7 linked regions of the Homo sapiens genome follow. The protein of the gene in region 6 interacts with the protein of the main gene of each other region in a biochemical or structural test. Each region holds a gene or a part of one and is shown on either strand. Other genes may lie near its edges.

Region 1 (3,500 bases), on a different chromosome or scaffold from region 6:
AATGAATGTGTGGCTGTGTGCCAAGAAAACTGTATTTATAAAAACAGACAGTGGGCTGGATACGGCCCCTGGGCCACAGTTTGCCAACTGTTTATTTAGAAACATGAAACAGATACAACCTGCCCCCATCTAGTGCTGAAGACTAGTTAATCCCAGACTTGGATTTCAAGCACCAGTAAAATTTCAGACAATTTGGGTACAAGAATCAAACCATAACTACTCTAGCACCTTTTTTGTTCTGTAAGAGAAAGGGCTTGTAAAAAAGTAGAGAAAAGGCTCAAAATAATATGCTTTAAGCCTCTTGAAAAACTGCGTTGCCTGCCCCTATTTTCCTGTTTTAGTCATTTCTCCAGGGCCTGATCAGACCCAGCACAGACAAGCCTCTGGAAGCCACAGTCGTCCTCCCTTCCGTTTGTATTAGCTTTATCCTATACCAGTGTAGCTGTGGTTAACATCTGCTTGCCCATAATTTCATGTTAGTCATGGGGAAATGCACATACTTTCTTCAGGACCCCACTGTAGATTAATCATCAGATTCTGTGACTGGCACTCTCTCCCCAAGAACAAGGAGGGCTACACCACCCAGGGAACTACCAGCAGGTACCTGGGAGGATCCAGCCTGGCATATCTTAATCCCAGCTGGAGGAGAGAGATCCTTTGCTCTATGAGAGCTACTTAAAGGGAATGGTGGCTTTGTTTTTAAAGATGAAAGTCTTGGGGTGAGGCATGGAATGAAGCGGTAAAGCCATTGGGAAAACCAGACGGAGACAGTCCTTACTTATTCTGCAGTCGGGCCCAGCAAAACCCGGGGCACATTCGCACCGGTACCAGTTGTCTCCATCCACACAGGTGCCGCTGTTGTAACTAAGAAAGCAAAGACCACCTTGGTTACCAACCTCCCAGTCCATTACTCTGGCTGCCAATCACTCACATGTCACCACACCAGTTACAGTCAGTGGCTCTCACCCCATGGCCGTTGCCTGGGGAATTTTAAAAGAATACTGATGCCTGGGTCCCACCCCCAGAAAGTCTAATTTCACAGGTCTTGGTTGCAGCCCAGGCAGCGGGATTTTTAAAAGCTCCCAGGTGATTCTGGTGTGCAGCCAAGGTTGAAAAATCACTGCTCTAAATGAGGACACAACCTGGCTAATTAAAGTGTGGTCCATGGGGCAGCAGGATCGCTTCACCTGGGAGCTTGTTAGAAAAGCAGTCTGAGGCCCCACCCCAGACCTCCTGACTCAGAACTTGCATTTTAAACACAATCCCTGGGTGATTCTCACACACACACACACACACACACACACACACACACACACGATAGTGGATGAGTGCTGGCTTAAAAGGATGTCACACTTACCAGGGATGAGGGCTGCAGTCATTGGTATCTGCAAAGAAAAGACAACTTAATAGTGAGGACTTCAACAGGGAAAGCGGTCTTAGCCCTAAGTAAAACCACCACTTATTTTCCTAATACCCAAATGATAAAGTCGTAGTTAACACCAGCAAAATACCTTTGCTAAATTGGAACCAGGCCCGCACCACACTTAGTTTCATTTGCTGTGGGACACATGTACACAGGAAGAGGCCCTGGTAGGGGATAGGGGTGGGGGTGAGAATGGAAGGAGACAGGCTGCTGGTCAGACCCAGAGCTGGGAACTGAGACGCCATCTGTCTCCACTTATCTTATTGGCGACTTTCTCATGCCCAGGTCAGGGCTGTATCCCATCAAGTCATTAATGCAGACCCAGGTGATACAAAAGCAGACATCAAACAGCTCTGCTTCTGGTTTCCATTGCAAGTCCCCAAGGGTGTCAGGATCTGCTCCGACAGCCCTGGGAGAGTTCAAGGGGGGAGGACACTCACTCTGAGCACAGATGGGCCCCTCCCAGCCTTCCTTGCAGACGCACGTAAAGGACTCGCCGTTGACCACACATGTGCCCCCATTATGGCAGGGGTTGGGCAGGCAGCTACTGTTTCGGGCTATAAAAGAAGAGCAGACACGACCACCCTCCCTGAGTATCCAGAAACAGTCTGGAGGGGCAAGAACCAGGCCCAGAGAAATATCATAAGCTCCAGGGGCCAACCAGCAGACACGCCCAGGTGGCCATGCCCACTGCAGATCCCACGTGGGGCATAAAGTTACCTATGTTACAGGTTGTTCCTTCCCAGCCGCCAGGACACATGCACTTAAAAGCATCCCCCTCATCATAGCAGGTGCCACCGTTGTTGCACGTGGCCTCATCACACTGACTGTCACCTGGAGGAAAATATTTCAGTGTGAGTCCCAGTGGCCCCCTCCCACAGAAGACAGAGGGAAGGGTCCCAGAGATAGCATCCAAGGCCAACTACCACTTACGTGAGTGGCAGGTCTTTCCTTTCCACCCATTTTTACAGTCACAGTAGAAGTCATTGACCAGGTCGCGACACGTGCCCCCATTGTGGCAGGGGTTCTGGCTGCAGTCATTAATATCTAGAATCAAAGGGGAGACAATCGGCTGAAGACGAGATCCAGGACCATTCACGACAGGCGAGAGCCAAGCCTTTCCTACTGCTTACATCCAACATCCTATTCTGAGAACAGCCACAGTCGTAGTACTTTAACACAATCAGGCTTTTCCAGGAATAAAGGAGCTCCCAACTGGGTTACTTTGAATGCCACAAGTTAGGCAAGATGTGGGGTGGGCCTCTGGAAGTCCCATGGAAATGAAAGTAGAAATATGACTTTCCTTGCAAGCAGGAATATTTATTACACAGTCTAATTCTATAGGTCCTCAGCAGAAGCTCCTCCCCATAAGCTATCATCAGGACTCATAAATGCAAATGAGACACAAGTGATACTGTCCCAGTGCAGAAATCACTGCGGTCTTGCTTCCAGAGATTTCCAGTACAAAGAAAGTTTTCCCACGTTGAAGTGGGATCCCTCCAACATGACCCATACATCCCAGAGCTCCCCAAAGAGTGGCAGACTCACTGGTTTCACAGTAGGCCCCCTCCCAGCCGTCACTACAGATGCACTTGTAGGAGTTGACACCATCGATGCAAGTGCCACCGTTTCTACAAGGGTTGCTCTCACAGTCATTAATATCTATGAAACAAAGTAAAGCAAAAAAAGAACTGAAGGACTTGTGAAGCCATAGACAAGCACTGTTCAGCAGTTTTCATGGCTCCCTCCTGACACAATGCACCTGGCACCTCCACCTGCTACCCTCCATCAGGGCTGTTTCTCAAATTAGACAGGCGGCTTATCAAGCAGAAGCTTCCAGAGAGTGCCTTACCCACTTAATGCCCTCACATGGGCATTTAGTCACCGGTACTAGGTGAAAGTGGGGAAGAAACTCCTACAGAAAAGAGGAATCACCCAACCTAGCAACATTCCAGAATGTTCCAACATAGATATGGAGGCTCCGAGGCAGAGTGATCTGGTAAATTGAACACGACCTCAGTCTTAGATCCCAGATGTAAGGATAAGTCTCAACCAGTCTCCCCAGCCTTACTGTTTC
Region 2 (3,492 bases), on a different chromosome or scaffold from region 6:
AAGTTTGATCAGGTTAAAGGATAAACTATTTTCTTGAGTTTATATTCTACCCAGATCAATACAAAATCTTTAAGATTATTCAATAATATACCAAAGGGCCTCAATCTCAGGGGAAAAACTAGTGGGCTGGAAATTTTCAAAAACACATACAATTTAAGTGATTAAAGTTTAGACAAATCCTATTTGTACCAATGGCTTCAGAAATACTACAATAGTAGAGCTGAAAGAGATCTTGGCTGCCATCCGTTTAATCTCATTTCTCCTTCAGAAAAACCAGGGTTATGGTACTGAACTATCGTTTCCTGTCTCCCCTCAGGTAGCTGAAAATAAGGTCATAATAATTACTGATATTCCCACATTCCTTCAGAGTTTACAAAGTATCTCTTTGTTTATTATCTCATTTGTTCCTTACAATTATTTTGTGTGGTAGACACAACAGTCACTACTACCGGGATTTTTTTTTTATAACAATAGATAAAACTGAGACTCAGAGAAACTAAACAAAATTTTACCAATTTGGCATGGCTCATGGAGCCAATAGGTAATTTGAACCCAAGCTGTCTGATACTCTTTCCATCACTCATGCTGCCTCCCTGTAGATGAGATGATAAAGAATATAACTTAAATTTGGGCCAGGCACGGTGGCTCATGACTGTAATCCCAACACTTTAGGAGGCTGAGGTGGGCAGATCACTTGAGGCCAGGAGTTAGAGATCAGCCTGGCTAACATGGCAAAACTCTGTGTCCACTAAAAAAAATACAAAAATTAGTTGGGTGTGGTGCACACCTGTAATCCCAGCTACTCAGGAGGCTGTGGCAGGAGACTTCCTTGAACCTGGGAGGCGGAGGTTGCAGTGAACCAAGATCACGCCACTGCGCTCCAGCCTGGGCAAAAGAGCGAGACTCTGTCTCAAAAAAAAAAAAAAAAAAAAAAAAAAAAAAGAATATGACTTTAGTTTGAATGAAATATAATTATCTGATTATCAATTCAATGCATCATTACATTAGAGTTTAGAATTCTGAATGGTATAACAAAATAGTACTGCATGTCTTTTTTACTGAGTTTCTTTCTGTTGCTGTTGCTTTTTAACATTTTAATATCAACATACAAATTTCATAATACCTTGGTTTGATTTAATACCTTTTTTATAATATTTCAAATACTTGAATTTTTGTATTAATATATAGCAAAAGAACATAAAAGAGCACCAATGTTTATCTACAAACCACAGAGCAAAAAAGTTTTAGAGGGAGATTCAGTGAAACTAGAATGCCAGATCTCGGCTATACCTCCACCAAAGCTTTTCTGGAAAAGAAATAATGAAATGGTACAATTCAACACTGACCGAATAAGGTAGGATATGTATTTCTAGACTTACTATAGTTTATTTGGGTGAATCCAGTTATACTTTTTAACATGCATTATAAATGGCATGCATTTATCTCAATTTGTCTAGTTTTTAAAACACTAAAGAATAATATAATAAAATATATATTAGATAAAAATGTAAGAAAACTTCAGTAAGCCAGATTCCACTAATCAGAAATGTAAGGCATAAAGTAGACTAGGATTTATCTTTTTATCAACGATGATGAAAGATGGCCCAAGGAAATAAATGACATAAACAAGATTAAAGGGGGATGTTTTCTTTTCTTTTCTTTCTTTACAAAAAGCTTCAGCCTTTATTAAACAAAGGAGGAGGTAGGAGACAGATAACGGAACAGGTCAGGACCCCTCCATTCCCCTATACATACGCATAAATACAAACACAGACACACCCGAGTGAATGACAGGGACCATCAGGGGACAGATTGAAGAGCAGAGGGAGACAGCACCCAAGGGGGGATGTTTAATTCAAGAAAACCAATAGCTATTTGGCAATAAATAGATACAGCTTTGGAATTTTCAAATGTTTTTTTCTTCCTAGTCTGACTGTTGGTCAGAGACATCCACTTCACAGAAATAATTCCTGTACTTTCATTTCTTAAAAATTTTTATTTCAGCTTATATCAAGATAACACTGGAAGAGTTACTTTACTGATAAAAGATGTAAACAAGAAAGATGCTGGGTGGTATACTGTGTCAGCAGTTAATGAAGCTGGAGTGACTACATGTAACACAAGATTAGACGTTACGGGTATGTCATACTATTAACCAAAGTATTATAAGGGATTTAACTAGGAAGATTTAATAAGAAATGAAAATCCCAGCAGAGTATAAAATTTGAGATATTTTCCCCATATATAATCAGTTTTGGTTCTTTTTTCTTTTCCTGTCTGATAATAAATACCTAGTGTGACCAATTTGGTTAGAACAGGTTTTCTGAATCAACTTTTATGTGATCTATTTCAGCACGTCCAAACCAAACTCTTCCAGCTCCTAAGCAGTTACGGGTTCGACCAACATTCAGCAAATATTTAGCACTTAATGGGAAAGGTTTGAATGTAAAACAAGCTTTTAACCCAGAAGGAGAATTTCAGCGTTTGGCAGCTCAATCTGGACTCTATGAAAGTGAAGAACTTTAATAACTTTACCAACATTGGAAAACAGCCAACTACACCATTAGTAATATATTTGATTACATTTTTTTGAAATTAATCCATAGCTGTATTAACAGATTATGGTTTTAATTAGGTAATATAGTTAATATATATTTATAATATTATTTATCCTTTGACTCTTGCACATTCTATGTACCCCTCCGATTTGTGAAGCCTACAGGAAATCTGGGTATATGGATTTGTAACTGCAGAAGACTATCTTAAAATACAGGATTTTAACATTTAAGTCATGCACATTTAACAATTACAGGTTATAAATTAGTATCAACTTTTTAAACACATCTAATGCTTGTAATAACGTTTACTGGTACTGCTTTCTAAATACTGTTTTACCCGTTTTCTCTTGTAGGAATACTAACATGGTATAGATTATCTGAGTGTTCCACAGTTGTATGTCAAAAGAAAATAAAATTCAAATATTTAAAACGGACTGTCTCCTCTTCACAAAAGTCTAGATCTGTAAAATAAAACTCCACTCAGCAAAACCTATGAATAACAAGTTCCAAAAGAGCAATGTTATATTCTAGAACAGTGTGAAGCTCACTTACAGCTCAGCCAATTCCTCTAGAAACTAAGCTAGACTTGCCATGGTTTGCACTTCAAAGGCAATCACAAGAACTTAAATCATGACTGAATCTACTGAATTTGTGATTTTGTTTTAACCAAACAGGTTTCTAATTCTTCAGGATTTTTCAGTCTGTTATGCTCAAAGGAATAAGAATAGTCTCTAGAGATTACCTGCTTAATTCTCATAGTTAATGTAAATTTGACAGCCCGGTAGTCCCAGCTGCTGGGAGAGGTTGAGCTGGGGATCCCTTAAGATCAGGAGTTTGAGGCCAGACTGGGAAATATAGCGAGACTCCATCTCTAAAAAAAAAAAAATTATGTAAATTTGATTACCTATATATGGGTGTTTTTCCTCTAATAATT
Region 3 (3,500 bases), on a different chromosome or scaffold from region 6:
TGTTTCTTATATATTTGCCTTTGGATGATACCTTCAAACAACCAATTTAAGTCTGGACACTGTGGCTCATGCCTGTAATCCCAGTATTTTGGGAGGCCGAGGTGGGCGAATCACTTGAGTTCAGAAGTGTGAGACCAGCCTGGGCAACATGGCAAAACTCTGTCTCTACAAAAACATTACAAAAATTAGCCAGGCCTGGTGGTGTGGGCCTGTAGTCCCAACTACTCAGGAGGCTGAGTAGGGAGGATTGCTTGAGCCCAGGAGGCAGAGGTTGCAGTGAGCCGAGATCAAGCCACTGCATTCCAGCCTGGGCAACAGAGCAAGACCCTGTCTCAAAACAAAATAAGAAACCGATTCAAAATATTAATTTTGTCTATTTTTAATTCCTAGGGTCTGAAACCTGGCTTCATTACTCTGTAGGCAACAGTTCCTTCCCTTTGATTTGCTGTTTATATGAAACATGTAACAATTCATGTCATTAAGTATATCTTTTTCTGGTCTTAGATTAAGTTTAAAAAGTTTCACTTTGGGCCCCCCACGTTGTGGCTCACAGCTGTAATCCCAGCACTTTGGGAGCAGGCCGAGGGATTGATCACTTGAAGCCAGGAGTTTGGGACCAGCCTGTCCAACACGGTGAAACCCCGTTTCTACAATTAGCTGGGCGTGGGCATCCCACACCTGTCATCCCAGCTACTTGGGAGGCTGAGGAACGAGAATCCCTTGAACCTGGAAGGCGGAGGTTGCAGTGAGCTGAGATGGCACCACTGTACTCTAGCCTGGGCGACAAAGGGAGACCCTGTCTCAAAAACAGTTTCCACTTTGTTCACTATTTCTATTTTGTTCACTAGTAGCGTCCCAGAAAAGATTTGAGGTAGCAACACTAAAAACACACTAATTCCATTTCTACATAGAATAAACTAAAGAGAAAAGAGAAAACAATTTGTGGAGAAAAGTGAAGATAATTAGATAGGTTGGGATTGAGGGGAAGGGTTAAAGGTTAAAAAAAGAAAAATTGTGCTTCTCCATTCTGGAAAGTCCCCAGCTTTTTCTTTGTTTTGTTTTATGTCCAAACTGTGTACATATTGGATTCTTTCCTACTCCTTAGTCTATCAGTCAATCATCAGTTGAGACTTGAGTACACTACACCCTAAAGTCATGAGTTACTTAATGGGTAGTTGGAATTCAGTACCTTTAGTGTGTTTTATTCTCTAACTCACCTACCCGAATAATTTGATTCAAAATAGACTAAAAAGTCTTATTTTTATTGGATGATATGAGCAGGCACTAAATACAGTACAGTATTAAACTTTGGGCTGACACAGTACAGAACCAGTCAAGATAGGGCTCTAGCCTGTTAGGAGATTGCTTTTACTCTTCCAAGTCAGCGTTCTCACTGGGCACGGTGGCTCATGTCTGTAATCTCAACCCTTTGGGAGGCTGAGGAAGGGGGATTACTTCAAGTCAGGAGTTCAAGGCCAGCCTGGGAAACATAGCAAGATCTTGTAGGCTGGGCGTAGTGGCTCACGCCTGTAATCCCAGCACTTTGGGAGGCCGAAGCGGGTGGATCACAAGGTCAAGAGATCGAGATCATCCTGGCCAACATGGTGAAACCTGTCTCTACTGAAATGCAAAAATTAGCTGGGCGTGGTGGCTTGCACCTGTAGTCCCAGCTACGCGGGAGGCTGAGGCAGGAGAATCGCTTGAACCCGGGAGGCGGAGGTTGCAGTGAGCTGAGATTGCACCACTGCACTCCAGCCTGGCAACAGAGCAAGACTCCGTTTCAAAAAAAAAAAAAAAGATCTTGTCTCCACTGAAAATATAAAAAATTAGCCAGGCATGGTGGCATGTGCCCGTAGTCCCAGCTACTAGGGAGGCTGGGGCCAAAGGATCCCTTGAGCCTGGGAGGTCGAAGTGCAGTGAGCTATGATCATGCCTGGTCGGCAGAGTGGGACCCTTTCTCAAAAAACAAAATAAAATGAAATAAAATTAAACCAGAGTTATAAATCCTGTGAGCCAGCATTTTCCTTTGGGTCTCATAAAAACTAATCCTGTTTATGGTGAAACCCTGTCTCTACTGAAAACACAAAAAATTAGCTGGGCATGGTGGTGGGCACCTGTGATCCCAGGTACTCGGGAGGCTGAGGCAGGAGAATGGCGTGAACCTGGGGGATGGAGCTTGCAGTGAGCCAAGATCGCGCCACTGCACTCCAGCCTGGGCGACAGCGCGAGACTCTGTCTCAAAAAAAAAAAAACTAATCCTGTTTAGATTTTTGTTACCATTACCTCCAGTGCATACGATCTAATTTTTTTTTTGAGACAGAATTTCACTCTTGTTGCTCAGACTGGAGTGCAATGGCACGATCTCAGCTCATTGCAACCTCTGCCTCCTGGGTTCAAGCGATTCTCCTGCTTCAGCCTCCCGAGTAGCTGGGATTACAGGCATCCACCACCATGCCCGGCTAATTTTGTATTTTTAGTAGAGACGGGGTTTCTGCATGTTAGGCTGGTCTCGAACCCCTGTCCTCAGGTGATCCACTCGCCTTGGCCTCCCAAAGTGCTGGGATTACAGGTGTGAGCTACTGCACCCAGCTGATCTGATTCTCTTAATTAAGCAACACTAGGAAATACTAATGTTATAATTTTATTTTAAATTAGAATTCAGAGTCACAGGTTCCTGTTAGGAAGGTTCTTTCTGTGTGTAGTGCCCAGAAGCTCAAACTAATGACAGATGAAAATACCTCAGAGAAGTTGGAGGGTATAAATTAGAGATGTGCTTTATAGATCCTAACTGAGAGATCAGGCTGTGTACCTAGTCACAGAATTGATTTTAATTGAAATGTTGATGAAATTGGTGATCACCAGAATGACCCAAAGGTGTGTTACTAGAGCTCTTTGCAGGGATAGGTTCACCCCTATCATTCAGGTTTCAATTACACTATGAATCAAAAAAGGAATAGGATGAAATATTTAAAAATATAGGCCAGGGGCCAGGCGTGGTAGCTCACGCCTGTAATCCCAGCACTTTGGGAGGCCGAGGCAGGTGGATCACGAGGTCAGGAGATGGAGACCATCCTGGCCAACATGGTGAAACCCCGCCTCTACTAAAAATACAGAAATTAACCCGGCTTGGTGGCGAGCATAGTCCCAGCTACTCAGGGGGGGTGGAGGCAAGAGAATCGCTTGAACCCAGGAGGTGGAGATTGCAGTGAGCTGAGATAGCACCACTGCACTCCAGCCTGGGTGACAGAGTGAGACTCCTTCTCAAAAAAAAAAAAAAAAAAAAAATCTAGGCCAGGCCCGGTGGCTTACGCCTGTAATCCCAGCACTTTGGGAGGCCAAGGTGGGTGAATTACCTGAGGTTAGGAGTTCCAGACCAGCCTGGCCAAGATGGTGAAACCCTGTCTCTACTAAAAATACAAAAATTAGCTGGGGCAGAGGTTGCAGTGAGCTGTTATTGCACCAACGCACTCCAGCCTGGCAACAGAGTGAGACTCCATCTC
Region 4 (3,500 bases), about 27 Mb from region 6:
TTTCCATAAAATGAGAGTGAAATCAGAATTGGTGATTTCCAAGGGCTCTTCCACCCAGCCTGTTAATTCAGTGGCAGGAGGATTTCCCAGTTGATCTCCTGGGGCCAATCCCTTCCTGGGTCTTTTCAGAAAGAATCCTGCAGTTTCGTTGCAACCATTCTTGCCAGAAGTGAAATCTATCATCAGTATGAGAAATGTTCAAAGGGGTGAGTTACCCTTGGCCACTATGTCCACAGACCAGGTCAGGGGGTGCTTTGCTGGCCTTGAATGGGATACTTCAGGCCAAAGAGACTTTAGCCTAACAATTGAGGCAGAGACCAGTTTGGGTATTGGAGCTGCTGTCCATCAGTCTTCACTTTGTTCCCTTCGAGACATGCAGGTCTCCAGCCCAGTAAACCCACCAAAGGGTACAGGAAGCTCTGTTACAGATGAGGAGCTCTGGACCATGAAGAGCTTGTGAATCTCACCACCGCCACTACTCTGGACCCAGACCTGTGAGGTCCACCCACTGCCCAGGCAGTTGCCAACATCTGCCAGGAACGATTTCCACAAGGAAGGCTGAGTGCCTCTGAGCCCTGGGTGGGCAGCAATGTCAGTGGCACCATGGGGAGGTCATCCTCTCCCCATCTTGTGTTTGCTCATCATGGCCTCCCTGCCTGTGGGTCACAGGCCCAGCAGCAGCAGGCACAGAAGCCACAGGCGCTCCTAACACATTAACCGGCTGGACAGTGGATGGATGGAGCTTAATCTGAGATCTGGCCGCTTGGGACAGGGACATGAGGGGCAGGGCCCTGCCGCTGGCAGAGGAGCCTCCTCATTCCCCATGCTCTGCTTGCACTTGTCCTAGGACAGTCGCTAAGGGCCAGACTGGTGTCTACACATGCTTTTCTGTCATTCTGCTATGTGGTGCTGGCTTCTGCAGGGAGCTAGGCTGTGCAACTAACAGAACACAGCCTCTCAGCTATGGGAAATGGGATGGATGGGGGTGTGGGGAGGTTCTAGAGGGACAGGGCAAGTGAGAAGATGCAATGCAGGTCAGTCCTGTTCCTGAACCTTCCCTAAAGGTGGGCCTGAGCCAGCGCAGGCCCCTTAGACATCACCCGCCATGACCCCGCCAGACCGTCACCCACAGCCCCCAGCACACACCTGACCACAGCCCTCAGCCCCTACCCGACCAGACCCTGGGCCCCTAGTTTCCTCCAAACAATCCACACTCCCTGTACATCAAATAGAGCCAGCCCCAGCAGTGGGGCAGGAGGACCTCCAGCAGGAATGGCTCTATTTCTCCCCATCTCAAGATCAAGGCTGAGGCCCCTCAATTGCCTCCATCTCCTTTTCCATGGACTACATTAAAAGGGGTAGGCCTAGCACACCTTCAGACTAGCCAAAGGGGGTCATGCTCTGAGTATGTGTTGTCTCAAGAAAGCAGCACTTTCCACACCCATGCCATATATTTGGCTGGTGGAGAGCAAAGAGGAGCAGGCTCCCTCTGAAACTACAAAGCCAGCCTAGACTCCTGCCCAGGGAAATCAGGACAGAATCTCAGCTGTGAGGAAAGTGGGGCTTGGGTCTCAAAGCCCAGGAGAAGCCTCCCTTATTCTGTCCCCACCTCTGGTTGCCTACACTGGCCCCACCCCAGCTCAACTCAGGCCCAGCCCCCCACCAGTGGAGCACAGAGCTCGGTGCCCCTGGGTGACCCCGTGCTTGTTCTTGCCTTCCCCAGGGCTGAAGACCATCGTGGGGGCCCTGATCCAGTCTGTGAAGAAGCTGGCTGATGTGATGGTCCTCACAGTCTTCTGCCTCAGCGTCTTTGCCCTCATCGGCCTGCAGCTCTTCATGGGCAACCTAAGGCACAAGTGCGTGCGCAACTTCACAGCGCTCAACGGCACCAACGGCTCCGTGGAGGCCGACGGCTTGGTCTGGGAATCCCTGGACCTTTACCTCAGTGATCCAGGTGCGAACTTGCTCTGCAGCTGGGGAAGACTTTGTGAGACCAGCAGACCGGGGTCACCTCCCACACACGCGTCACCAGAGGGCAGGCCTCCAGGGCTGTTCAAGCCCTGCCTGATCCCCCAGAGACCCAGACAGAGGACAGACGGGTAGCAGACTTAGGGCCTGCCTTGTGACTTCCCAGGCTAGACGGAGAGGCAATGCTTGAGGAGTGGAAAGTATGGAGTTAGATAGAGGGCCAGTTGGCTGCGGCATTTGGAGATGGGACTGACCCTAGAGTGTTGCAATGGCAAGGTGACCAGCCTGCCCACAGAGTGTCAGCTTAGGAAAGGGGTGGACATGGAGCCAGCGTAGTTGATGAGGCTTCAGAGTGAAGCCCCACCTAGCTGGCATGGAGATTTCCCAGTTGCCGTCAGTGTTCCTTGCCAGGATGCTCGTTCCATATACGTGTACCCCAGAACCCTGCAAGAGGGTTGGAACAAGCCCAATGATTGTGCCAAGTTGTGTGAGCCCCTCTGTTGTTTCACTGCCCCGTGGCTCACACTTCCATTCTCCAGGCTGATGGCCAGCACCACTCTTGACTAGAGCCATTGGTCTGTTTCGGAGGTACATGCTGCTGCAAGGCCAGATTCCAGGCCACAGGACCCTGGGCCAGAATGACCCTGAGGGCCATTCTGAAGTTAGGGCCTCTTACATACACCAGCAGTCCACTTTGGAAAACAAAACATAGACACTCAATGAGTAGTTCAGCAGTGGCCTCATAACAGCAGTTCTAAAACTTCCATGTACACCCAAGTCACCTAGAAGGCTCTGGAAAACAGACTTCTGGGCCCCACCCCTAGAGTTTCCGAGTCAGTAGGTCTGGGTGGCAGTCAGGAAGTTGCATTTCTAAGCAGTTTCCACTTGATGCTGATGATGCTGGTTCGAGGACCATGCTTTGACAACTGTCGCCTAAGACAAAGCCAGGTAATGGTGAGTGTTGGGGACTGATGACTTGCCACAGAAAGGAGAGGACAAGACGGGCAGTCCTGTCTGGTGTAGCCCCATCCGGACAGACCACAGCGTTAGCATGGTGACTATTGCAGGCATCACTTCCAGCATTTTATGTGATGGAAGTGAGTACAGAGCTGGGCAGTAGCCGGCCAAGGCCCCACAGTGACTCGGCAGCCAAGCCGTAACTGCCCAGACCCTTGCCTCCTGGCCTTGGTGGGCCCCCTGAGTGGTTTCGGGTAGGGTGCAGAAGCTTCCTGTGGGGAGAGCTGAGGCCCTGCCCAGGGCTTCCCGTGTCTTCTGAGAGCATGGGGACACTGGCAGCAGGATGTCTTCAGAGGAACAGAAGGAAGGCCAGAGGCACAGCCAGAGTTGCCTGAAGCCTGGCCAGGCAGAGGGCAGGGGCAGGGGCAGGGAAGGGGCAGAGAAGAAGGAAGACCGCTAGTGAGGTCTCCACCTCCCCAGAGCCCTGGATGCAAGGCGGAAACTTTTGGGCCAGAGTGCCCCTCACCAGCATGATGTTTCTCTTACAGAAAATTACCTGCTCAAGAACGGCACCT
Region 5 (3,500 bases), on a different chromosome or scaffold from region 6:
AAACTTAATGATGAGCTGCCATTAGAGGCTGTCAACAACAACAAAGCAGGAACCCTATTCTGAAAATGATAATTAAGGGACACTGATGTGTTGAGCAAAAATCAGAAGTTTGGTTTCCCATTTGTAACAGTAATTGAATATGGAGGCAAGTAGGGCCTCAGAAGACTGACGTTTTCAGGTTTTCTGTCTGTTCATAACTAACTGTATGGCCCATGCAATCAATTTACCTTCTTGGTGGCTTGGTTTTTATATTATCTCAGCAATATTTTATTGAATGCCTCTTATAGGCCAGCCACTTTGCTAATGACTAAAGAGCCACTGAATAAGAAAACTAGGGCTCCCTGCTGTCATTAGAGGTACGTTATAGAAGAGAAATATATGCTCAAAAAATACAGTAAAGTAGGAAGTGTTAGTGATAGGAGAGGAAGAGTGTCTTGTGGGAACAGATGAAAGGGGACACAGCTTAGAAAGTTGGGTGGAGGATGTGCCAAGTCAGTGGAGCCCTGTCAGGTGAAAGGGTAGGGCAGAGGAGGAAAGCTCAGGCATTTCACATAGAAGGGACAGTAGGCCAGGTGTGGTTGCTCATGGCTGTCATTCCAGCACTTTGGGAAGCAGAGGTGGGAGAATCCCTTGAGGCCAGGAGTTCAAGGCCCACCTGGGCAACATAGCCAGACCCCACTTCCACAACTTTTTTTTTTTTAACTAGCCTGGTGTGGAAGCATGCACCTGTAGTTCTAGCCACTTAAGAGGTTGAAGAGGGAGGATCACTTGGGCCCAGGAGATGGAGGCTGCAGTGAGCTTTGATAACACCACTGTACTCCAACCTAGGTCACTATAGAGACCTAGCTGTCTCTATAAAACAGACAAACAAACAAAAGAGTATATGCAAAGGCCTGGCAGCTAGAAACAGCACAAGGGTTTCTGAAGTTCAGTGTGTTACTAAGAGTCTGTGACTCCAAACTGTGTTGCAAATATTTCTATGCAAATTTCATGTGTGTGACAGCTTTCATGTGTTACACACACAGGAGCTGAAGGATCCTCACTGTCGGGATGAGATGGCAGCCGCCCGAGGGGCTCTGAAGAAGAATGCCACAATGCTGTACACGGCCTCTCAAGCATTTCTCCGCCACCCAGATGTCGCCGCTACGAGAGCCAACCGAGATTATGTGTTCAAACAAGTCCAGGAGGCCATCGCCGGCATCTCCAATGCTGCTCAAGCTACCTCGCCCACTGACGAAGCCAAGGGCCACACGGGCATCGGCGAGCTGGCTGCGGCTCTTAATGAGTTTGACGTAAGCATCCTGGTGAGGTACACAGAGGGGTGGGCACTGGTGTTGACAAAAAAAAAAAATGTATTGAGGATGAAGGGCCACTACAATAATTTACATTGATTTTTCTCTTTTGGAGGTTTTAATAGTAAGATAAACTACATAATGCATTTCTGTAATATATTGGCTAAGCCATTATCACTTGTCTTTAAAGAAACAACTGTGGCTGCGGTGGCTCACCCCTGTAATCCCAGAACTTTGGGAGGCCGAGGTGGGTGGATCACCTGAGGTCATGAGTTCGAACATGGAGAAACCCCGTCTCTACTAAAAATGTAAAACATTAGCTGGGCGTGGTGGCGCATGCCTGTAATCCCAGCTACTCGGGAGGCTGCGGCAGGAGAATCGCTTAAACTCGGGAGGCGGAGATTGCGGTGAGCCGAGATCGTGCCATTGCACTCCAGCCTGGGCAACAACAGCAAAACTCCGTCTCGGGGAAAAAAGAAGAAACAACTGTATTTAAGAGTGCCCAATCCCTTCCAGGTAGATGAGATAACTTACAGGCTATTTTAGGGACAGTTCATAATTTGACGATCATCTTTATTATTAAAGGGGCACATGTTATGGGCAGCCTAGATGTACGTTGCCTCTATGTTGTGCCTGCGTGAAAAGCTGCCATCAATTTCTTTGTTTTAAATCAGTGATAAAGTACATTGCCCTATGATCCCACACAGGACCCTGGTCTTCATTAGAACAGACCCTCTGGGGAGAGCCTGTGTTAGTTCTCTGAAAGTCCTACATTCTACACTGGCTGTTTCTGTAGGTGTGTCCTGGTGAGGGAAGAAGCAAGGAGGATTGTTCACTGTGCTGAGCCATATGTGAAGCATCAGTGTGAGTGAGAAGGTTGCACGCATGTCATCAGCACCCCGGGATGACAGCCCCCATTCCCCCCGGGTCAGAGGACCTGTGAGAAGTTGGAATTTATTTATCTTATGATCAATGAAAGCCTACAAAGATTTATAAATAATTAGCATCTACTTTCCAGGGTTAAATAACCCTGCAGGGGAGATGAGGGAAGTAGAATGCACTAAACACCATTTAATTGATAAAACACAATGTTACAGGAATTCATAGAAGAAAAATAGGTTACTTAATGGTCATGAAGAAAGATGATGAGCTTGCTTTTGAATATGTTGATGTGAATTTTTGGCAAGAAATAACTAGTTAGCAGCTGGAAAAAAAGGTCCAGGAGCAAAGCAATGATTGTTCAAGGCTTGGAGATGGATGATATAACTGAGGAATAATTTTAACAGTTCATACTCAAATAGTTCTTACCATTTTCATAGTGGTCTCTCCTCTTTCCCATATTTTTACAGTTAGTTATATGTATCTCACACCATATATTATTTCCTAAGGTTTTTTTTGTGAGGATTAAATATGATAATATATTTAAAGCACTTGCTACAGAAATGAAGACTTAATAATAGGTAATTTTATTCACAAAATTGCAGCGAGCAACTGAAAATTCATAGAAAATAATGAGAGTTCAAAATAATGTTTACTTTATATAACATAAATATACAAAAATCTCTAGATTTTCATCATGTAAAATAAAGTAGAATAACGAGGAGATATTCACAAAACAAATAATTTTTAAAAAGTTAATTTTATTTTATTATTTCTTATATCTGCTAGAAATAAGTCTAATATAGATGTGAAGGACCTAAAAAGTCAAATTATATTACTTTATTGAGGGACAAGTTTTACTTGTCAGTAAATGATATCATGATCTTGAGTAGGAGAACTATTGATCCTATCAGTTTTCATAATGTTGAAGCAATCTCAATACAAATTCTAAGAGGATTCTTTTGGAACTTGACAGAGGAGTGATAAAGGATTTTTGTTTGTTTGTCTTTTTTTATATTCTAGAATAAAGAATGAATGAGCCCATATTTCAGGGAAAAGTAAATGAGCAGGTCATACACACAGATATTAAAACATTGTAATGCTACATTAATTTTAAAGGTGTGTATTGAAACACAAATGGACTCATCCATGAAAGAATAAAAATCATAGGCAATCTCAAATACAAAATTATTTTATAAATTGGTGTTTATTAAAATTAGTTAAGAATGGATTATTTAGTCAGATTTTGACACAATTACATTATTCTAGTTATAATTTATTTTATAATCAAAAATAAACAACAAAACCTAAGTGAGGAGCTGGTTAAGA
Region 6 (3,500 bases):
TTTATTTAAATGGGGATCTACAGTTTTAGTAACTCATTGCTTTACTGTACTCAAACAGTTTCCCAAACTTAAAATGACTTCACAGGTTTTAATCTGTCCCAAGGGATGAATTTATGTAATGTGGAGACCTGGCTCATTCTCAAGGTGTTTAAAGCTGTAAACATGTGCAATCATGACGTTGCTTGGTCTTGCTCAAACAAACAACATCATGATTGCACATGTTTATCTCCTGGATTGGAGTCTCACCACACAGAACACACTAAGGCCATGTTGACGCTACCTGTTTCCATCTTGCCATCCAATGCAGCAGGACCATCTAGGACCAAGCTCTTGATCTGGAGAAACTCATCAGGTTCATCCCCTCCAACCACCGTGAAGCCAAAGCCACGACTGCTTTTCCGCAGCTTTGTGTGAATGAACTTGCCTTTCAACTCAGAAGGGTTTCGTGTAAAAAAGGGTTTGCCTGGATTAAAATAAGAAACGCATAAGGAATGTCACCACTGGTGAAAAGGAGAATTAAACAAGATTTGAGACAACATATAGATAATTCTTCACGCTTATGCCCTAGAGCCTTTGGGCATATAGCATCTTAAGAAAGTCCTCTCTTAATTTGAGGAATAAGGATGTTCCTAGGCCCCAGTGTTGATGGAGGGAGGTAAAGCATTGAGTATGTCAACTCCAGGGTCCAAAAGAAACTACAAGAGAGGGATGAAACTAGTCCCTGTCAGGTGACACACTTCTTGGTTTCCATTCATGCACTTTGACAGGAATTGAGCTGCCACAAACCCCTTCACAGAAAATGGAACTGGTCTGTTTTATGTCTTTTGTTTTGTTTTAATTTTATTTTGCTATATGGCTTCTGATGTGCTGCTTTGGGCCTGGCTTCCACTTGAAAAACCAACAGAACTAATCAAACGGAAAATCCAGGCTGAAAATGCACAGATAATACCAGAAAACATATTATAGTCACAAATAATAATTTGACAAAAATGTAGAATGACTATTTTCAAAATTAAGGGTCATTACTTTGAATTGAATTCTAAATTCAACTGATTTTTTCCTATTTATCTGATCTTTTATTAAATTTGTGATATAGCCAACGCATGCCTAGGGCTAAGAATTACTGTTTAAAACAAGTTTAGGATATTTGTTTAAAAAACACAAACCAAAAAAACAAACAAAGAAACCCCCCCCACAACACACACACACAAAATCCCTAAACTAAGTAGTTACTAACAGTAGCCACACAGCTCCAAATTCAGCTGTCTTATTTAAAATAAATTAGGCTGGGGGTGTGGTGGCTCATGCCTGTAATCCTAGCACTTTGGGAGGCTGAGTCAGGTGGAGCACTGAGGTCAGGAGTTCAAAACCAACCTGGCCAACATAGTGAAATCCTGTCTCTACTAAAAAAAAAAAATACAAAAATTAGCCAGATGAGGTGGTGGATGCCTGTAATCCCAGCTACTTGGGAGGCTGAGGCAGGACAATCACTTGAATCCAGGAGGTAGAGGTTGCAGTGAGCTGAGATTGCGCCATTGCACTCCAGCCTGGGCAACAAGAGCAAAACTCTGTCTCAAAAAAATAATAAAAATAAAATAAATTTACAGATAGAGGTATCGCTAAATTATTTCCAAACATGCTACCTAAGGTTTTATTGAGTTTTCTTGATACATTCACAAATAACATTTTGAACATAAACCAAAACGTTTTCTTTTGGGTTTTACTAGGCACTTCTCTGTAATTGAGAAACTTACTGGAACTTCTCTGATTATCCCAAGTAGTAGACCTAATTTCATGAGCAGCTTCTTTCATCTCTTCTAACTTTACTTACTTCTTATACCCTGTCCTTGCCACACACAGCTTCTCCATCTGCCCTGTTTCTTTTCTATCAAAAATGTTATCCAAAACAAAAAGAGAGAGAGAAAGAGGGAGACATTAGTCCCCTACACCCCTGTACTAGGAGCCTGGCACCTAGGAAAGAAAGTTATTTTTGGTTAGTTATATCTAAAAGAGTTTAAAAGGTCTCTGGGCATGCATACAATTTTTAATTGCATATTTTAAAAGTTTCTGGCTCTTGCAAAGAAGGCTCTTTTAAATTGCCTGCAATCAGAGGTCCTTTCGCTAACCTGCTCTCTAGCGCAGTCCCAAAGCTTATTGGAAGGTTGACAAACTACAGCCCTGTCATAGTGGCTAAAGAAAGGCAAGACTTACAAGGATTCGCCACGCAAAGTCATCTGCCAAGGCGTTGGGAGGGTGGTGTCACTTGCACCAAGAGCTTTGGGGAGACAGCTGCCAAGACAATTATCAGATGGAAATTGAGGTGAGGTAAGATAACCCCCAAAGTTTACTTTAGGGGGAGGAGGGTGACTGGCCTACACTCTTGTAGCAGGTGCTGCTAGGGCATTCCAGGGCCCTGAAGGGAAACACATTTCAGTTATGCAGAGACATCAACAGCCATTACCTTCGCAGCAAGACCTTCCCTAACCACCTTACTAAAAATTGCAGTACCTCCAACATTCCCAATCCCTTTTTCCTGCTTTATTTTTGTCCTTAGCATTTACCACCTTCCAAAAGAATATACATCTTACTTATTGCTTTGGTTTTCTTACTATCCCCAACTCCCATGCATGAGTGGCATTGATATGCAGGTACATAAAACCACTAGAATGTTAGCTCCATGAGGATTTTTATACGTATATCAAGTATCTAGAATATTGTCTGGTACATTTTATGTGCTCCAAAAATTTCTGTTGAGTGAGAGAATGAATGAACAAATAAAAGCACACAGAAATGATATTTATCATGTCTTTGAGAAGGCTGAAAAGAGGTGTTTGGTTGTTGGAGCTTTTCACTCTTATTATAGGCTAAGTTAGAAAACGTGAAAATGTGCCTGGCAGTTTATCTACTTAAAAAAAAATACATTAGCATATTTTGTGCTGAGAATGTTAACTTAATAAAGACATGAGCAGAGCTTTGAAATTATACGACTGACTTCCTTTTCCAATGTTTAACAAGGGAAGGAAAATCAGAGGGTTTCACATTTATGCACATTTTATTATTTTTTACGTATGGGTGGATCATTAGTTAATGTAGCTTTTGGAAAGAAACGCTTTTCACCCCATAAGCAGTGGAATTTGGAGCTCTCAGCTGCAGCCCTGTGGTACATGTAATTTTCTAAGATCCTAACCTCTGTTTACCAGTCACCAGCGGTAAGACTTGGTTGTGTCTTACCCAGGGAAAATCCCCTGGGTAGCTTTTTAAAATGTACTCATTTTCACTTCCTTCCTTAGACTCACTGATCAGGATGTTCTGGGTCTTGGCCCAAAACTCTGCACCTGAATGAACCTTAGGTGCATGTTTCCCTGCCAGGATGGGGGGAGGGGAAAGAAATGTCACTTCTTGACACTAGTGTTTAAATACCCTAGACCAGTACCGTCTAATGGCACTTTCCGTGATGATGGAAATGCTCTGCACCTGCACTGTTCAATATGGCAGCCACT
Region 7 (3,500 bases), on a different chromosome or scaffold from region 6:
ATAACACTCCAAGATGAAAGGAGGATCACTTTCTCAAGATTCAAGTGGTGGCTCTCTGTCATTTGTAATATAATTTAATGAGTTCAAATTGCCAGTCTTCTACATTGTTTATAAACATTCTGTGTGTGTGTGTGTGTGTGTGTGTGTGTGGTCACTTTTTAAACAAATAAAGATGAAATAACTACATCTGTGTTTATATTTTATATGAGCAAATAAATTATGGAGAAAGAGGTGGAAGATACACAGTATTATCTGAGTGGGATTGAGAGGAGATGGGACAGTAGTGAGAGAGAAAGAGAATGAGTACATAAGACAGGAAAATAGTCATAGGAAAATGGAAAAAAGTGGATTGTATAATGTCAAGTGAAAATATATATAAAATTTCATTTATGACATAATTGAAAGTATATATTAATTGAATAGGCACATAGACAAAGACTAAATAGAAATGTGGGTAGTTTCTGCTTTTGATCCCTGTTATATGTATATAGTAAAAACACTCTTTAAAGCTAGCTCTGTTGATAACCTGAAAAAATATGAATCTCTGGTATGCTGGAACTCTAAACCTTATACTCTTGACATGATAAAATGAGACCCATAATTTTGCCACTTATCTGTGGCCACCCAGCTAATTTATAGTAAAACGTGGACTACAGCCAGGTGTCCTATCTCCCAGTACAGTGTCCTCACACAGCACTACCTCTGCCTTTCAAGGCTATTCTATGGCAGCTCTACTCAGTGATGGAGTTCATTTCATGGGGAAATGAAATCAGCCAATGATTATCACTCTAGAAATAGTGTTGACCTGTTTTTGGACATGACAAGTCATCAAGAAGACTGTTTCCTGCCAGCAATTGGCAATGAGAATCTGAGATTACAGAAAATCAGGCTGAAGGCCAAATTATAGATCTACACATAATAGCAGCAGTGGCCAATGTTCTATTCATTTCTAACTAGTGTCACTCCCTCTAGGCAACACATCTGTCATGCAGCACAGCTGTGCGATCCTGGGAGACAATAACAACTGGGAAAAGTAAAGTGGTAATATCCATCAGCAAGAAGGAAACAAATTTTGAGCAAAAGCAATGAGGAAGTTAGATATTGATCAAGTACTTATATTAATAAATGTAATATTATAACAGCTATCAGTGTTATGAAGAAAATGTCCAATTGCTATCAGAAAAAATGTGGGTTCTGAAGAAGAAGCCGTAAGAAATAAAAGGAAGAGAAAATGGCCTCGCAAAATTCTCACATACATACACACCCCATTTAAAAGCCTTCAGGAGTTCTCACTAATGCTTAGAAATAATCTTAATCTAGTAATCATTCCATTAAAAATAACTTAACTCATCTGCTAATAAAAGAAGAGGAAAGAGCTGACATCTTTTGTTATCAGGCACCTTTAAGCTTTTTGTTTGTATATGTTTAATTCAAGACTCACATTCTATGAGTAGATGTCACTATAATGCTTATTCTATGAGTAAGTCCTATTTTACAGTGGAGCCAGTGGAGACAACCAAGAGATGAAATTAACGACTAAAGTCACACGGCTGTTTAAAAATTTAATGAATAACCCAGAGAAAAGAAAAAAACAAAACAGAGGGGAAAGAAAGGACAAGATGGGTTCCAGTAGATGACAAAACCAATTGAAGTTCAAGACAGGAAAATAAGTGAGATGCATGAATGCCTGCTGAAAATATTTTATTTTGTCACAAAGAATTGAGGAAGTTCTGGGAATATGAAACCTACTCTCTGTGCATTGGCAAGGAAGAGCCACACCTGGGACCCTTCCATCTCACTGCCTCTGGTCTACCAGGGCTGAAGAGACTACTCACAATTAATGCAGCCACCAGGAAGCCCATTCCTCAGGGATTTAAGGCTTCCTTATAACTAGAAGACAAATGGAAATAGTCCTCGTTGTCAAGAGAAAAGAATGAGAACAAACCAACTCTCTTATCTTTAACTACAATAGTGTTTGTGGCAATAAACACAGTATAGAGATAATCAAATGTTGAGTTTCCATTTCATTCTGCCAAAGACAGTCCCTAGTTTCCACTTTGGAGAAGCTGCCTATATTCTAGGACTTGGTATGATCTCAGCTCACTGCAACCTCTGCCTCCAGGGTTCAAGCGATCCTCCCACCTGAGCCTCCCAAGTAGCTGGAACTACAGACGTGTGCCACCATGCCCAGCTAATTTTTGTATTTTTAGTAGAGACGGTGTTTCACCATGTCGGCCAGGCTGGTCTCGAACTCCTGACCTCAAGTGATCTGCCCGCCTTGGCCTCCCAAAGTGCTGGGATTACAGGCATGAGCCATTGTGCCCGGCTGTCCTCATTCTTAACTCCATCAGTAATAGTTTTGACAGTTCTGTTTATTATCACCACAATTTGTAATTAACACATGCGTTGAGATGCAGAGTGCAGGCCTACTTGATTTATTGATTTATCCCATTTTATGTCTATACCCCACTCCTACTTCTCTACCTCCCATATACAAGCATTTATGTAAGACACACACACACACACACAATCTTTTATCTGAATATGTTCATAAAACATATATTACTGTTTTATGTGCATGTATTTTAATGTATGTAAATGATATCATACCATATATCCTATTGTTTCTGTCACATGTTATCCTGTTTTTACGATCTTGTCCATGCTGATTTGTGCACATTTAAGCCATTGCTTTTTATTGCTACACAATACCCCATTATAAACACCCAGATTGCCCCTAATTCTCTAACACCACAGAATTACTGCAAGAATCATTATAGACCTGGGTGAGAAATTCCCTGGGATAGAGACTCGGGGCGGAGATTGCTGGGACAGAGGACATGTGTATACATAATGTCACTAAGCAGTGCCCAGCTGATCTCCACAATGAGGGTACCAGTAGGAGGGGTGGGCCCCAGAGGTAAAAGTCAGAGTATAAATCATGGCTGCTTGTGTGAGTTGAGTATATTATCTAACATCTCATAGCCCCATTTTCTCATTTATAAAAATGTGAACAATTACAGTGCCCATCTCATAAAGTTACTGTGATAATTAAATGAGAGAATCAAGTACTTAGCACAGTATTTGGTACTTGGCAAGTAGCATTACTGATTACCATTTTTCCACACCTAGAAAGAGATTTCTGATTTTCTAGTAGGCTCTGAATCTTCATGCTGGAAGGTCAACAGTAGGAATTCTAAGACCTGGCCATTTTTTCGCAGCATGGGACTCCTCTGATGGGCACCTTTCCCCCAAGGTTCTCCTTTGAGTTGGAAAAAATTTTGTCAGATTTGCTTGCCGGTCTGAGGTTACCCCTGTCCAATCCTTCTCCCTCTCCCTTTCAACTTTCACAAGCATTACCTCCTCCCCTAATAAACCTCTAGCACCCCAATTCCATCCTACAGTCTGTTACCAGGAGGATCCACTAACACAGTAAAGAAAATACTGAACATGTTTATATAGTGGTCCTCATTACCATGTGATAATCTGACTATAGAAAA

Evidence for each region.
Region 1: the proteins of MAGI1 (region 6) and JAG1 interact in a test that uses a peptide from one of them, tested with the Homo sapiens proteins (one large-scale study listed by IntAct).
Region 2: the proteins of MAGI1 (region 6) and MYOT interact in a test that uses a peptide from one of them, tested with the Homo sapiens proteins (one large-scale study listed by IntAct).
Region 3: the proteins of MAGI1 (region 6) and EZH1 interact in a test that uses a peptide from one of them, tested with the Homo sapiens proteins (one large-scale study listed by IntAct).
Region 4: the proteins of MAGI1 (region 6) and SCN5A interact in a test that uses a peptide from one of them, tested with the Homo sapiens proteins (one large-scale study listed by IntAct).
Region 5: the proteins of MAGI1 (region 6) and CTNNA2 interact in a test that uses a peptide from one of them, tested with the Homo sapiens proteins (one large-scale study listed by IntAct).
Region 7: the proteins of MAGI1 (region 6) and PTH2R interact in a test that uses a peptide from one of them, tested with the Homo sapiens proteins (one large-scale study listed by IntAct).

Annotation. Positions count from the first base shown.
Region 1 is NC_000020.11:10,643,000-10,646,499, forward strand, and holds part of JAG1 (protein jagged-1 precursor), read right to left. Parts: intron 3,086-3,500; coding exon 2,972-3,085; intron 2,471-2,971; coding exon 2,357-2,470; intron 2,258-2,356; coding exon 2,144-2,257; intron 1,981-2,143; coding exon 1,864-1,980; intron 1,386-1,863; coding exon 1,358-1,385; intron 865-1,357; coding exon 779-864; intron 1-778. UniProt on the Homo sapiens protein: Ligand for multiple Notch receptors and involved in the mediation of Notch signaling. May be involved in cell-fate decisions during hematopoiesis. Seems to be involved in early and late stages of mammalian cardiovascular development.
Region 2 is NC_000005.10:137,884,860-137,888,351, forward strand, and holds the end of MYOT (myotilin), read left to right. Parts: intron 1-1,188; coding exon 1,189-1,354; intron 1,355-2,004; coding exon 2,005-2,138; intron 2,139-2,353; coding exon 2,354-2,526; 3' UTR 2,527-2,992; downstream 2,993-3,492. UniProt on the Homo sapiens protein: Component of a complex of multiple actin cross-linking proteins. Involved in the control of myofibril assembly and stability at the Z lines in muscle cells.
Region 3 is NC_000017.11:42,738,541-42,742,040, reverse strand, and holds part of EZH1 (histone-lysine N-methyltransferase EZH1), read left to right. Parts: intron 1-3,500.
Region 4 is NC_000003.12:38,608,188-38,611,687, reverse strand, and holds part of SCN5A (sodium channel protein type 5 subunit alpha), read left to right. Parts: intron 1-1,723; coding exon 1,724-1,954; intron 1,955-3,473; coding exon 3,474-3,500. UniProt on the Homo sapiens protein: Pore-forming subunit of Nav1.5, a voltage-gated sodium (Nav) channel that directly mediates the depolarizing phase of action potentials in excitable membranes.
Region 5 is NC_000002.12:79,873,051-79,876,550, forward strand, and holds part of CTNNA2 (catenin alpha-2), read left to right. Parts: intron 1-1,025; coding exon 1,026-1,292; intron 1,293-3,500. UniProt on the Homo sapiens protein: May function as a linker between cadherin adhesion receptors and the cytoskeleton to regulate cell-cell adhesion and differentiation in the nervous system. Required for proper regulation of cortical neuronal migration and neurite growth.
Region 6 is NC_000003.12:65,430,419-65,433,918, forward strand, and holds part of MAGI1 (membrane-associated guanylate kinase, WW and PDZ domain-containing protein 1), read right to left. Parts: intron 464-3,500; coding exon 281-463; intron 1-280. UniProt on the Homo sapiens protein: Plays a role in coupling actin fibers to cell junctions in endothelial cells, via its interaction with AMOTL2 and CDH5. May regulate acid-induced ASIC3 currents by modulating its expression at the cell surface.
Region 7 is NC_000002.12:208,409,792-208,413,291, reverse strand, and holds part of PTH2R (parathyroid hormone 2 receptor isoform 1 precursor), read right to left. Parts: intron 1-3,500. UniProt on the Homo sapiens protein: This is a specific receptor for parathyroid hormone. The activity of this receptor is mediated by G proteins which activate adenylyl cyclase. PTH2R may be responsible for PTH effects in a number of physiological systems.